3 linked regions of the Homo sapiens genome follow. The protein of the gene in region 1 interacts with the protein of each later gene in a biochemical or structural test. Each region holds a gene or a part of one and is shown in the gene's direction. Other genes may lie near its edges. The genes, in order: ATP1A1, ZNRF2 and ZNRF1.

Region 1 (3,751 bases):
TTCAGGCAAACACAGGAGACATTTGGCAATGAAGTAAAACAGATAATAGCAAATTGGTTTTGTTTTAAGGTTTAGGGCCCTTTCACCCTATGTTACGGTTAGAGGAGGGTTTGGTCTTGTATCAGCTCTGCCACTTTCTAAAACTTGGTTATATTTCTTTTTTTCTTTGATGGAGTCTCGCTCTGTCATCCCGGTTGGAGTGCAGTGTCATGATCTTGGCTCACTGCAACCTCCACCTCCTGAGTTCAAGTGATTCTCCTGCCTCAGCCTCCCAAGTAGCTGGGATTACAGGCCCCAACCACCATGCCCGGCTAATTTTTGAATTTTTAGACCACCATTTTGGCAAGCTGGTCTCGAACTCCTGACCTCAAGTGATCCACTCACCTCAGCCTCCCAAAGTGCTGGGATTACAGGCATGAGCCACACACCCAGCTAAAACTTGGTTATATTTCAGCATGTCTAATAAAGATAGGGAAAGGAAGAATACAGACAGGCCTGCCTTAGAGATCATCATGAGCCTCAAATGAGATAAAATATATGAAAATGCTCTGTAACCTGTAAAGTACTGAACACTTAATAGCTTTTATGTGCTGGGGAAAATTCCTTCTTTGTTTTGTTTACAAAGTGATCTGCATAAGAATATCCCCTCTTGAGGTGATGGACACATGCTGGTGATGTGATGCGTGACTTTTTTTTTTTTTTTGTCCTAATTCTAGGGATGCCAAGGCCTGCGTAGTACACGGCAGTGATCTAAAGGACATGACCTCCGAGCAGCTGGATGACATTTTGAAGTACCACACTGAGATAGTGTTTGCCAGGACCTCCCCTCAGCAGAAGCTCATCATTGTGGAAGGCTGCCAAAGACAGGTCAGCCAGCACAAGGATCAGGCTGCTTTGGGCACTATTGGCTTTAGGGATTGGAGTTCCAGTGGAAACAGAGCAACGGTGATGGATGGATGCATACCTCGCTGTATTAGACTCAGTATAAATAGGCCAGTAGGAAGCTCATAGGCATAGAGAGGGTGACTTGTTAATGGTTTAGCAGTGACAGAAGCACTTTAAAGTCCAGGTGTCCACTGTGTCCCAGAGCCTGACCGCTCCGTGGAGTCATCTGATATGGGGTCCTAGTATTTGCAATAGAGATGTGAGTGGTCAGACTACAGGGCGTGCATACAGGAATGGCATTTTCTGGAGTGCCACCCACCAGAGTCATTACTTTGAGTAGCTCTTGTTAATGCTGGGGGCTATGTTTGTTGTCACTTCTCAGTTCTGTTATTTGGTGTAGGGCCTGTGTGAATACTTGCCTGTGACGGTTCTCAGGCTTCATAAATAGTCTCAATAGGAAAGGAGCAGTGTCTGTAATGAGTGCTCAGTGGGGGCATGCATCGCACTATTTCCATCGCTAGGAAAAGTGATTGGTATTAACCCGTTTTCCCTTTTCTGGGGTAGGGTGCTATCGTGGCTGTGACTGGTGACGGTGTGAATGACTCTCCAGCTTTGAAGAAAGCAGACATTGGGGTTGCTATGGGGATTGCTGGCTCAGATGTGTCCAAGCAAGCTGCTGACATGATTCTTCTGGATGACAACTTTGCCTCAATTGTGACTGGAGTAGAGGAAGGTGAGAGCTATTTAAGGTGTACACCAAGATCTTATTCAGATACTGCCCATTAGCATCCATTTCTGTATACTTCTTGGATATGTTCAGTTTCCAGTGTGCTTGTCTCATAAGCTAACAGTAAAAAATCTTGGTTTTCATAGGTCGTCTGATCTTTGATAACTTGAAGAAATCCATTGCTTATACCTTAACCAGTAACATTCCCGAGATCACCCCGTTCCTGATATTTATTATTGCAAACATTCCACTACCACTGGGGACTGTCACCATCCTCTGCATTGACTTGGGCACTGACATGGTGAGTGTCACAACAGTCACAGATCGATAGTAGTGAGGTGTGAGCTGTGTCTTCATTCACTGGCACTATGCTCCCAGCATCCATGAGGCTGGCGTTGGGAAAAGAAATTCTCAGGACCAGTATCCAGTGTGTGTCCCAATCCCGGCTTCACAGAATCAGTATTACCACTCTTCAAGGCAGCAGTTAACATTTGTTTATCAGATGGGAATCTTTATTTTTGTATACTTCACCTAAAAGATTTTTAAATGGGAGGGCAAGAATTTTATAACAAAAGGTTCACAATATTAGCTTCCTTATTTTTAGTAACTAAATTCCTTCTCCCCACCCCTTCCCAGGTTCCTGCCATCTCCCTGGCTTATGAGCAGGCTGAGAGTGACATCATGAAGAGACAGCCCAGAAATCCCAAAACAGACAAACTTGTGAATGAGCGGCTGATCAGCATGGCCTATGGGCAGATTGGTAAGCTGCAGCCTGGAGTGGGAAGCTGGCACATCTAAGGCATCTGAGGTGATGGTGTCCACCTCAGGTTGAGGTTGATTTCAGAGACTGCAAATCCAGGCGACTTTCAGGTCTAGGATGAGCCCTAACGGAGTGAGCCTGTGGAGTTTCTCTGAACTCTCTTCCATGTGAGAATACATCTGTTGCTGTTTGCCCAGTTACCTTTTGTGGAAACTGGTTTTCTATACTGAGCACCTTGGAACTGGGCTCAACTCTGCCTGAGAAATGAGGATGTCCTTCCTCACTGAGCCTTGCGGAACAGGAGGCATGGTTCTAAGGAATTGTGTGTACTGACGCACAGGCTGCTTTCCCTGGAGATACACACTTATCTGTCACTCACTTGGATGGAGTTAGGCATTGGAGAAAGTATATGTGTTTGAGAGTTTGGCTGGTAGGTCACCACCAAAGGGTGATCCTCCATCCACCTCACACTGGACTTCTGCCCCCACAGTGCAGCATGACTAGCTAACAGGTGATCCAGGTGGTGGGCAATCAGCATGCCATTTGTTTTTAAATCCTCTGCCTAGGGTTCCTTCAAGAGAACCTGGCAAAGCCACCATGGATGTCTTATTCTCCTGGATTAATGGGTCACATAACTGTGAACGCTTGGATAAAGAAGAACAGATTAGATAGAATATTGTGGAAATTATGGCAAAGATTCATTAGACAGTTGTTGGCAACAAAGTAATTGGCTGGTGGCCCATCCTGACCTTCTCCAAGGAGGCCTGCTTTTGAGAGGAAGGAAGACTAGGTCTCTGGTGGTTTAGGATGAAACCCTGCCCTGAGGAACTTGGAGCAGCGTGGTTAAATTGGATGCCAGGGGGAGGAGGGTCCTGAAGGTGGGGAGGAGAGTCAGAAAGTGCCACAGTGGCTAGAAAAATGGCAGCATGTAGGAATTTTGAAAGATGGAAAAGAAGTTATCATTTGTCAGAGATTAAAAAGTAGGGAAGTGGATTTCCCCTAAAGGTCATACCCTTAGAAGCAGCTGGTCAAGTAACAGGTGGGCATTTTGAGAGCAAGGCACATGTGTCTTTGTGTAGGCTCCAAAAAGTGACTCAAAAAGCAGAGGGCCCTGAGATTGGAGTGTATGCCTGGGGTCCTCCATCCCATCCCTCATAGCCTGTGAGTGACCAGGCAATTCTTTCCTGTGCTTTTATCAACCAGGGGGAAACACTCCTCCATATGTGCTCTCCCAGGCCTGCTGCAGTAATCAGCTGAAGGCTATACAGGTACCCTTGTGTGTGAGGTTCTAGTAATTGGGTTGTTTTCCCAACTTAGGAATGATCCAGGCCCTGGGAGGCTTCTTTACTTACTTTGTGATTCTGGCTGAGAACGGCTTC
Region 2 (3,751 bases), on another chromosome or scaffold:
TTCTAAGCCTATTTATATTTGAGTACAGTAATAGCTCATGGATCTGTAATTGAAAGAATTAGTTAATGTTACGTTCTTTTATACGTATAAGAGATAACTTAATATCTGAAAGTATTTATTATTAAAACTTGTGAGCCCCAACTTTTTGTTCTTTGAGTAATTGCTTTTCACTAATGTTGTAAATTTTTTTAATTCTTGATTTTTCTAGGGATTATTTCACATTTCAGCTGCTTTTGTTTTCTACTGCTATCATTGAGGGTTCAAGAACAAAAAATAAGTCTTCAGGTAAAATGCCTGATCCATAATAGCGCTTGGCGTTGTATTTTGCTGAAAAGATCATATACCTGTTTGGATGCTTGATCTGAAAATAAAGTTGTGATGATTATGAAATTTTCGCATGAAGTTTCCTTGGCTGCCTAACAAATTCAGTCTTATTTGTTGGTTTGGTTTTTTGTTTTTTTTTTTAAAGAATTTTGGCTGTTTGCTTTTTTTTTTTTCCATGTCGTCTTGATCTGCAATAACTATATGGATATGTGCTTGGACCTGCTAAGTATTTTAATTTTGCATATTTGGCTGCTTGAATTTTAAGTAATTTCTTTGGACAATGCAAATTTTAAGAGCTTGAGAAGCTGTAAGTGAAATATCAAGTAACAGAAGTTTGTAACTAGTTTATAAATGTATATTCATTACCTATTATATATTTTAAGGTTTCATATTTTACCAAAATTAAATTAAAAATTCAGTTTCTCAGTTGCACAGGCCACATTTCAAGTGCTGTTTTCAGGCCATATGTGGCTAGTGGTTACCATTGTGGACAGCACAGATAAAAGATGTTTTTTCATCACCGTCCATAGTTCTATTGGACAGAGCTGTTTTAAATTGTGTAAGCAGTTAATTGTAAGGTCGTTTCAGTTATTTTATCCAGAAGATAAAGCGTGTGACCAGTCTTGAGAGTACTTCCTCTAAATATGTAGCTTGAGTATTTAAAACTTAGTTGTTTAAAACAGTCCAGTTGCTTTGGTATTTACGTTGCTTTAAAGTGAAATTGTTTCTTGTAGCAGAATTCATGAAGTAGGAAAAATGCCAAGGACTTAGTCTAAATTTGAATCCTGACCTCAGGACTTAGTAGTTTAGTAACTTCTGGTAAGTTACTTTACTTCTTTGAGCCTCAGTTTCCTTATGTGTAAAATGAAGGTAACAATAGTTACTTCATAGGATTAACATGTGACTTAAATATGTCAAAAGCACATTAAAAAGTACACGTTTTTAATCCTTTTAAAATATAGAATGAAGCCAAAACATAAATTAATTAGACAGTGTCATATGCTTGGAGTTGTTCCCAGCCTGGCAGTTATAATAGGCGCCTAAGTTCCTGGTCTTCATGGAGTTATTTGATGACATTGTTCAGGTTTGAAACAAGTGGAATACCAAGATGGAGAGAAAAAGAAATAGGAAGATGACTGACTTTGTTTTTGGAGAGGTGCATGAAGTACTATCTGATAATAACTAACATTTTGTATAGTGTTTTTTTATAACTTATAAAGTTTTTTCACACAATTCTTTAAAATTTCATCTCTAATATTTTGAGTACTTTTAACAGAAGAATAAAAGGAAACTTGAGGTTGACGAACATTTTTGTTCGTGAGAATGGAAATTCATATTAAGTTTTCAACTTTAAATCTTAGGCTCTTTCTACTTAAACAAGCTATTCTTTGATAGCAGTCGCATTTGTGAGGCAGGCATATATTTCAGAATCTCCAGGGGTGGGACTCAGGTACATATAATTTTTTGGTATATGTTGAAAATGCACCCATTGAAGTGATTCTAGTGCCCACTTCTGGTTAAAAATCGTAATCATTGCTCTTTTCCAGTCTTTTAACTTTTCTTTTCCTGTAATCAGTACATCTAAATTAATGCATAGATTACATGAATAAGACAAGGCATTAAACTGATAAGCAATGCGCTCATTTAACTTTTACTACTCTAGATGTTGAGGTATGAGCAATAACACTTTTTAAAAAGCAACATGTTTAGTTCCCTGTTGACAATCTCTTGTGTCTCCATTGATCATAGCTTGTGGAGGAGGAATCCAGACTAGCCAACTATGGTAGTTAAATCTGTGAGTGTTCCCTTCTCTGCTTCTTTAATGAGTTTTGGCTAGTTAGTAGTCTACCCCAAGATATTCCAGTTCTGAAGTGTTGACTCCTTAATCCCTGTGGGTGTTATCTTCATAAATGTTTTCAACTGATCTTTAGATTTTTAATCTTTTCCCAACTGTCTTGAAGATGCTTTAGTATCCTGGGTTTAGTGGTATTTCCAGGTCCTGTTTTTAAGTATGAATGTATCACATTACTAACAAGTCTTTCACAATTGTGAAATGTAGTTACCTATGTGAAGGCAAAAGCTCAAAACTTTCCTCTGAATGAAAGTGTCATTATAGGGGTGAGAGAGGGGACTACTCTAGCAAACCCCCAGGTAGGCAAAAATTAATCACATTCCACAGTGAATTTTCAAAACTGAAAATATTTTTAAACATACAAAGACACATTCTAGTGGAAACAAGACTTTAAAATGTGAAAATTAAGCATTTGCTATGTGAAGCTGTAATCATGAGGTTTTGAAGTCAGAGTGAACTATCTTCTAACTCAGAGTTGCTTATCAAAATGCAACTGATCAGTGGCTACAATATGTTAACATTAGCTTTTAATTTTCTGAGCAGAGATTATGTCACTAGAAGCTATTTTTAGTGGATATTAGGCTGTTTCTGCACTGAAATCAGTGTGTTCGGGATGTTTTTGTATACAGGTATACTTTTCTTGAACAGAAAATACAATTCTGAAGTACAGTTCTGATTATTTTTTATTGCTAGGGTTTAAGGGAGCTTATTTTTTAAATGACTTTAACCCAGCATTCTGAATTACACTAAAAAGATTGTTTAAACTTAGTACCTGCAAAGCATCTGAGGGATAAGTCTCGCCCCTGTCAATTTTAAAATAGCATTGTGTTCTTAAAATATGTATCATTCTGTTAATTATAGGCAGGTTGGATTTGTCTTTGTTGTACTATAAATTTTCTTATAAATAGGATAAAATGTAGACCTTTTAAAATATTCTCATCTCAAAGACTTTGAAGAGCTCTGAAAATGAGATGCGTCTAAAATCGATGTTGCATCATAGTTTGGTGGAAGCATTTTTTTTTTACTTGGTGGTATATAAAGCTAATGGTGCATATTATGACCATTGATGTTTTAGGTTTGATAAAAAGTGGTGGTTAACTTTTTGAAGGTGGTTGTGAAACTTACACTCACATAATTCTTTGATAAGAATGGTATACCTTTGTGATGAAAAAATACGTAAGTGGTGAGAATATACCATATTACTTGGAATTATAGACCTTTACCAGGTTTTTTTAGTGTCTCCTTTAGATCCTTTTTCTTTTTGTTCTCACTGCTATCAGTTAGATGCTTCACGTTAAACTTGTTCCCTATCTGAATCTCCTATTGAAAGATACTAGAACAATAAGAGAAAAATGGAGATCAAGAGAATGAGAAAAGGCATGGGGTGCAGGATGGGGTAGGAGTAGTGGGTAGGATCTCTAGGGCCAAGAGAAAAAAAAATGGGGAAAGGGAGGGCACTTCAGGGAAGTGGTAATAACATTTTCCGTTTATCCAGCTTTGCTTGTCCAGAAATCTTTACCTGCTTAAGTTTCTGACTGTAATATATTAGCTTGTGAGCTGCCCAGTAGTTAGCTC
Region 3 (3,751 bases), on another chromosome or scaffold:
TGGGTTTGTGTGCCTCCTGCCTCCTGCTGTGGAAGAATGCTGCTCCCTGGGCACTGGGCTCTGTGTGGGCACTGCTGGCTTCCCCATGCTGTCTGAGTCAAAGACCCTGACTCCTTCCTATTGCCGGGAACCTCCAGGTGGCCTTTTGCAGCCAGTGGCTCTTGGTCCCAGTGAAATGTGCTCCCTGCCGTGTGCCAGCCTGGTTGGGGTGCCTGCACATTTTAGTTCTTCCCACCAGTGCAGCAGACTCAGGCCAGCTGGTAAAGGCACAACACTGCACTGTGCATAAAACCGCCTTGTGGAGTGGTGAGGAAAGGCTGCCTCTAACCTTCCTCTGCTCAAGTCTGAGTCCTTTAGTGCACAGGCCTTCCGCCCCAGGACAAGAAGAATCGCCCTCGCGCCCCCTTCCCCTTCCCCTTCCCTTTCCCCTAGTGAGGTTCGGTGCAAAAAGAGAGTCAAGTCCAGTCTTGTCATAAAGCGCCTAAGCCTTATCCTCATACCTGCCTCTCCCTTCCCTGAATCCATCACCTCCTGGGGGGCGATGAGGGAGACCACATGTGCCCTCCTGGAGCTGACACAGATGGGGAGAGAACACACCTGGTGTGGGAAGCTGTATGGGACCCAGAGAATTCTAACTAGTCCCTTGGGCTCACAGTTGAGTTACCAATCAGTAGGAGAAAATGCAAAGATAAACTACTTAGGAATCAGTAATTGCCATGTTCCCAGGAAATCCTCCTTAAGTATGGAGGGGAAGGAATGCTTTAGAGGAAACTAAGGGCTATAGCCCATACGCTCATGTCATAGATGAGGTGTCCAAGACAAAGAGAGTGGGGAATACAGGTCCAAGAATGTCTGCATGACGACTCTGCCCTCACTAAGCTATGCTGTTTTTCCTCCCATCTCTGTTGAGGTTTTTCCCTCTGTTTTATTATGAAAAATGTCAAACACACAGCAAAGTTTTTATGTTTTTTTGAGACAGAGTCTCGTTCTGTCACCCAGGCTGGAGTACAGTGGCACAATCTTGGCTCACTGTAATCTCTGCCTCCCGGGTTCAAATGATTCTCCTGCCTCAGCCTCCCAAGTAGCTGGGACTACAGGTGCATGCCACCATGGCAGGCTAACTTTTGGTTTTTTAATAGAGACAGACTTTCACCATGTTGGCCAGGCTGGTCTCAAACTCCTGAGTTCAGGTGATCCATCTGCCTCAGCCTCCCAGAATGCTGGAATTACAGGCATGAGCCACTGCACCCAGTGTACGGCAAAGCTGAAAGCATTGTATAGAGAACACCCTTATTGCTGGGCGCGGTGGCTCACGCCTGTAATCTCAGCACTTTGGGAGGCCGAGGTAGGTGGATCACGAGGTCAAGAGATCAAGACCATCCTGGCTAACATGATGAGACCCCGTCTCTACTAAAAACACAAAAATTAGCCGGGTGTGGTGGCATGCACCTGTAGTCCCAGCTACTTAGTAGGCTGAGGCAGGAGAAACTCTTGAGGCGGAGGTTGCAGTGAGCTGAGATCATGCCACTGCACTCCATCCTGGCGATAGAGCGAGACTCCATGTCAAAAAAAAAAGAGAGAGAACGCCCCTATTACATAGCACATGCACCACCTGGAGTCTGCAGTGTACTAGACCCGTTTATCCATCCACCAACCCATCTTATCCTTCTGATGCATTTCATAGTAAAATGCAAACACCAGTATGCTTCCTTATCAGGGTTTTTAACTAAAGTAGTGCACATTCGAACGCTACAGAAATACATAAAAGGATTTTTCTCCAAGTCCTCCTTTCCTCTACCACTGTGAAAGTGTGTGCATCCTTCCAGACTTTGATCTGTGCCTACACATGCATTTGAATATGTATGGTAGCTAGTGCTTTCAAGCAGGGGGATCACACCCATGTGTTCATCCACTACTTGCCATGTTTGGAGTCTGAGGGGACAGACACTTCAGCAGCAGACTGTGCCATCTCCCTTCTCAGTTTGTGTCACCCTTTCAGGTGGGTCCTCGGGCTAGCCAGATGTTCTAGACAGAAAATGACCACAAGTTGTCCTGGTGGCCAGGAAGCTGAGAGTGACTTCTCTCGCAACTCATGTGCCTGGGGACTTAAGGATCGAATCGGTTCCATTTTATGCTTTTTCCTTGGGGTTCCTGGTGGGGGGCTTTGAGGAGCGGAAGCCATAGCCTTCTGGGCCCTGAAGAATCTTCATTTTATGGGCCCCAGGTGTTTGCCTTTCCACCAAAATAATAAGAGAACACAAAGAAACAGCAATGGGAAGGCCTCTTAAGCAGAGGGTCCCAGTCCCAGCCCCACAACCCACAAGCCCACTCATGAGGTGTGTGACTTCCTTGGGCTTCCGGATCCTCATTCGCAAAATGAGAATAACACTGGGTGCCCTGCCCAGCTTGGAAGATGGTGATGCTCAAAGGAAGACACGCACATGTGTTTGTCATTGGCAGTGTTCGGGACAGTTAAGTTCCTTTAGTGACGGAGAAGGGATCCTGCCACAAGCTCTGCCTTCTTCACAGCTGAGACACTGCTCTCCTGATATTTCTCCTGTGGCTTGGAGGACTTCTGGGTCGCCTTTTGTTCACGTCGCCTCTTTTCACCTGCCCTTCAAATATTCATGTCGGCCTGGGTTTGTCTTCTGCCTTCTTTGGATTTTGGTCTGAACTTTCTCCCTGGACTGCCTCTTTATCCCACATCCATGCCTGGCACCCATGTCTCTGTTCCAAACCTCAGCTCTAGGCTTCAGCAGCCTCCTGGAGGTCTCCATCAGCTGGCCGGGCCTCCTCCCACCCAACTCAGAATCCGTCCCTTCCTTCTCATGCTTTCCTCCTGGGCACCCTCCCTTAGTGCAGGCACCTGCTGTGTGTCCCGCTGCCCTCATCCGCACACGCAGGGCTGCTGCGCACTCCTTGTTGTCGGCCCCAGACACCACAGCAGAACACAAGGCTGTTCCCTGTGCCCAGAATCTCCCGTCCCCACCCCAGCTTCATCCATCCTCCACCTTCTCCAGAACCTTCCCAGATCAGCCCCCATCCTGATGAGGTCTCTTTCCCCATACCCTCAGCCCTGGGCCTGCGCGTGAGAAGATGTCCTGGAAGTCCTCATGCTGTGCCTTTTGATTTCCTTGTTCGGCATCCCTGCTAGTCTGTGAGCTGCTTGAATCCCGAGATCATGGCTATTCACTGTCGCCGGCACGCAGAATGCCATAGGACTTAATAAAAACCAGTGGGTTCCCATGGGTGCAAGTAGCTTCCTTCCATTCCTTCTTTTTGGGATGGTGAGCGGGGTCACTTTTGTTTCTTTCTTTTTAAACATTGAGATGAAACTCACCATAAAATTAACCATTTTTATATGTGCAATTTAATAGCATTTAAGACATTCACAACCCCCATCTTTATCTGGTTCTAAACACTTCATCGCCCCAAAAGAAAACCTCTGGTGTGATTCCACTTACATGAGGTAGCTAAAATACTCAAACTCATAGAAGCAGAGAGTAGACTAGTGGTGGCCAGGGGCTGGGCGGGGGGAAGGGGAGTGGTGGATTAATGGGTATAACATTTTAGTTATGCACGATGAGTAAGTTCTAGACATCTGCCATACAACATAGTGCCTACAGTTGACAATACTATGTTGTACACTTGAAGATTTGTTAAGAGGATAGAGCATATGTTAGTCTTACCACAATAAAATAAAGTTTTTAAAAGGGGAAAAAACGGGTCAGGCGTGGTGGCTCACACCTGT

What was found.
Region 2: of the proteins of ATP1A1 (region 1) and ZNRF2, one has a biochemical effect on the other in vitro, tested with the Homo sapiens proteins (one study listed by BioGRID).
Region 3: of the proteins of ATP1A1 (region 1) and ZNRF1, one has a biochemical effect on the other in vitro, tested with the Homo sapiens proteins (one study listed by BioGRID).

The regions. Positions count from the first base shown.
Region 1 is NC_000001.11:116,397,172-116,400,922, forward strand, and holds part of ATP1A1 (sodium/potassium-transporting ATPase subunit alpha-1), read left to right. Parts: intron 1-716; coding exon 717-867; intron 868-1,449; coding exon 1,450-1,618; intron 1,619-1,758; coding exon 1,759-1,913; exon of another isoform or gene 1,914-2,143; intron 2,144-2,248; coding exon 2,249-2,372; intron 2,373-3,689; coding exon 3,690-3,751. UniProt on the Homo sapiens protein: This is the catalytic component of the active enzyme, which catalyzes the hydrolysis of ATP coupled with the exchange of sodium and potassium ions across the plasma membrane.
Region 2 is NC_000007.14:30,350,553-30,354,303, forward strand, and holds part of ZNRF2 (E3 ubiquitin-protein ligase ZNRF2), read left to right. Parts: intron 1-208; exon of another isoform or gene 209-285; intron 286-3,751. UniProt on the Homo sapiens protein: E3 ubiquitin-protein ligase that plays a role in the establishment and maintenance of neuronal transmission and plasticity. Ubiquitinates the Na(+)/K(+) ATPase alpha-1 subunit/ATP1A1 and thereby influences its endocytosis and/or degradation.
Region 3 is NC_000016.10:75,099,980-75,103,730, forward strand, and holds part of ZNRF1 (E3 ubiquitin-protein ligase ZNRF1), read left to right. Parts: intron 1-3,751. UniProt on the Homo sapiens protein: E3 ubiquitin-protein ligase that plays a role in different processes including cell differentiation, receptor recycling or regulation of inflammation. Mediates the ubiquitination of AKT1 and GLUL, thereby playing a role in neuron cells differentiation.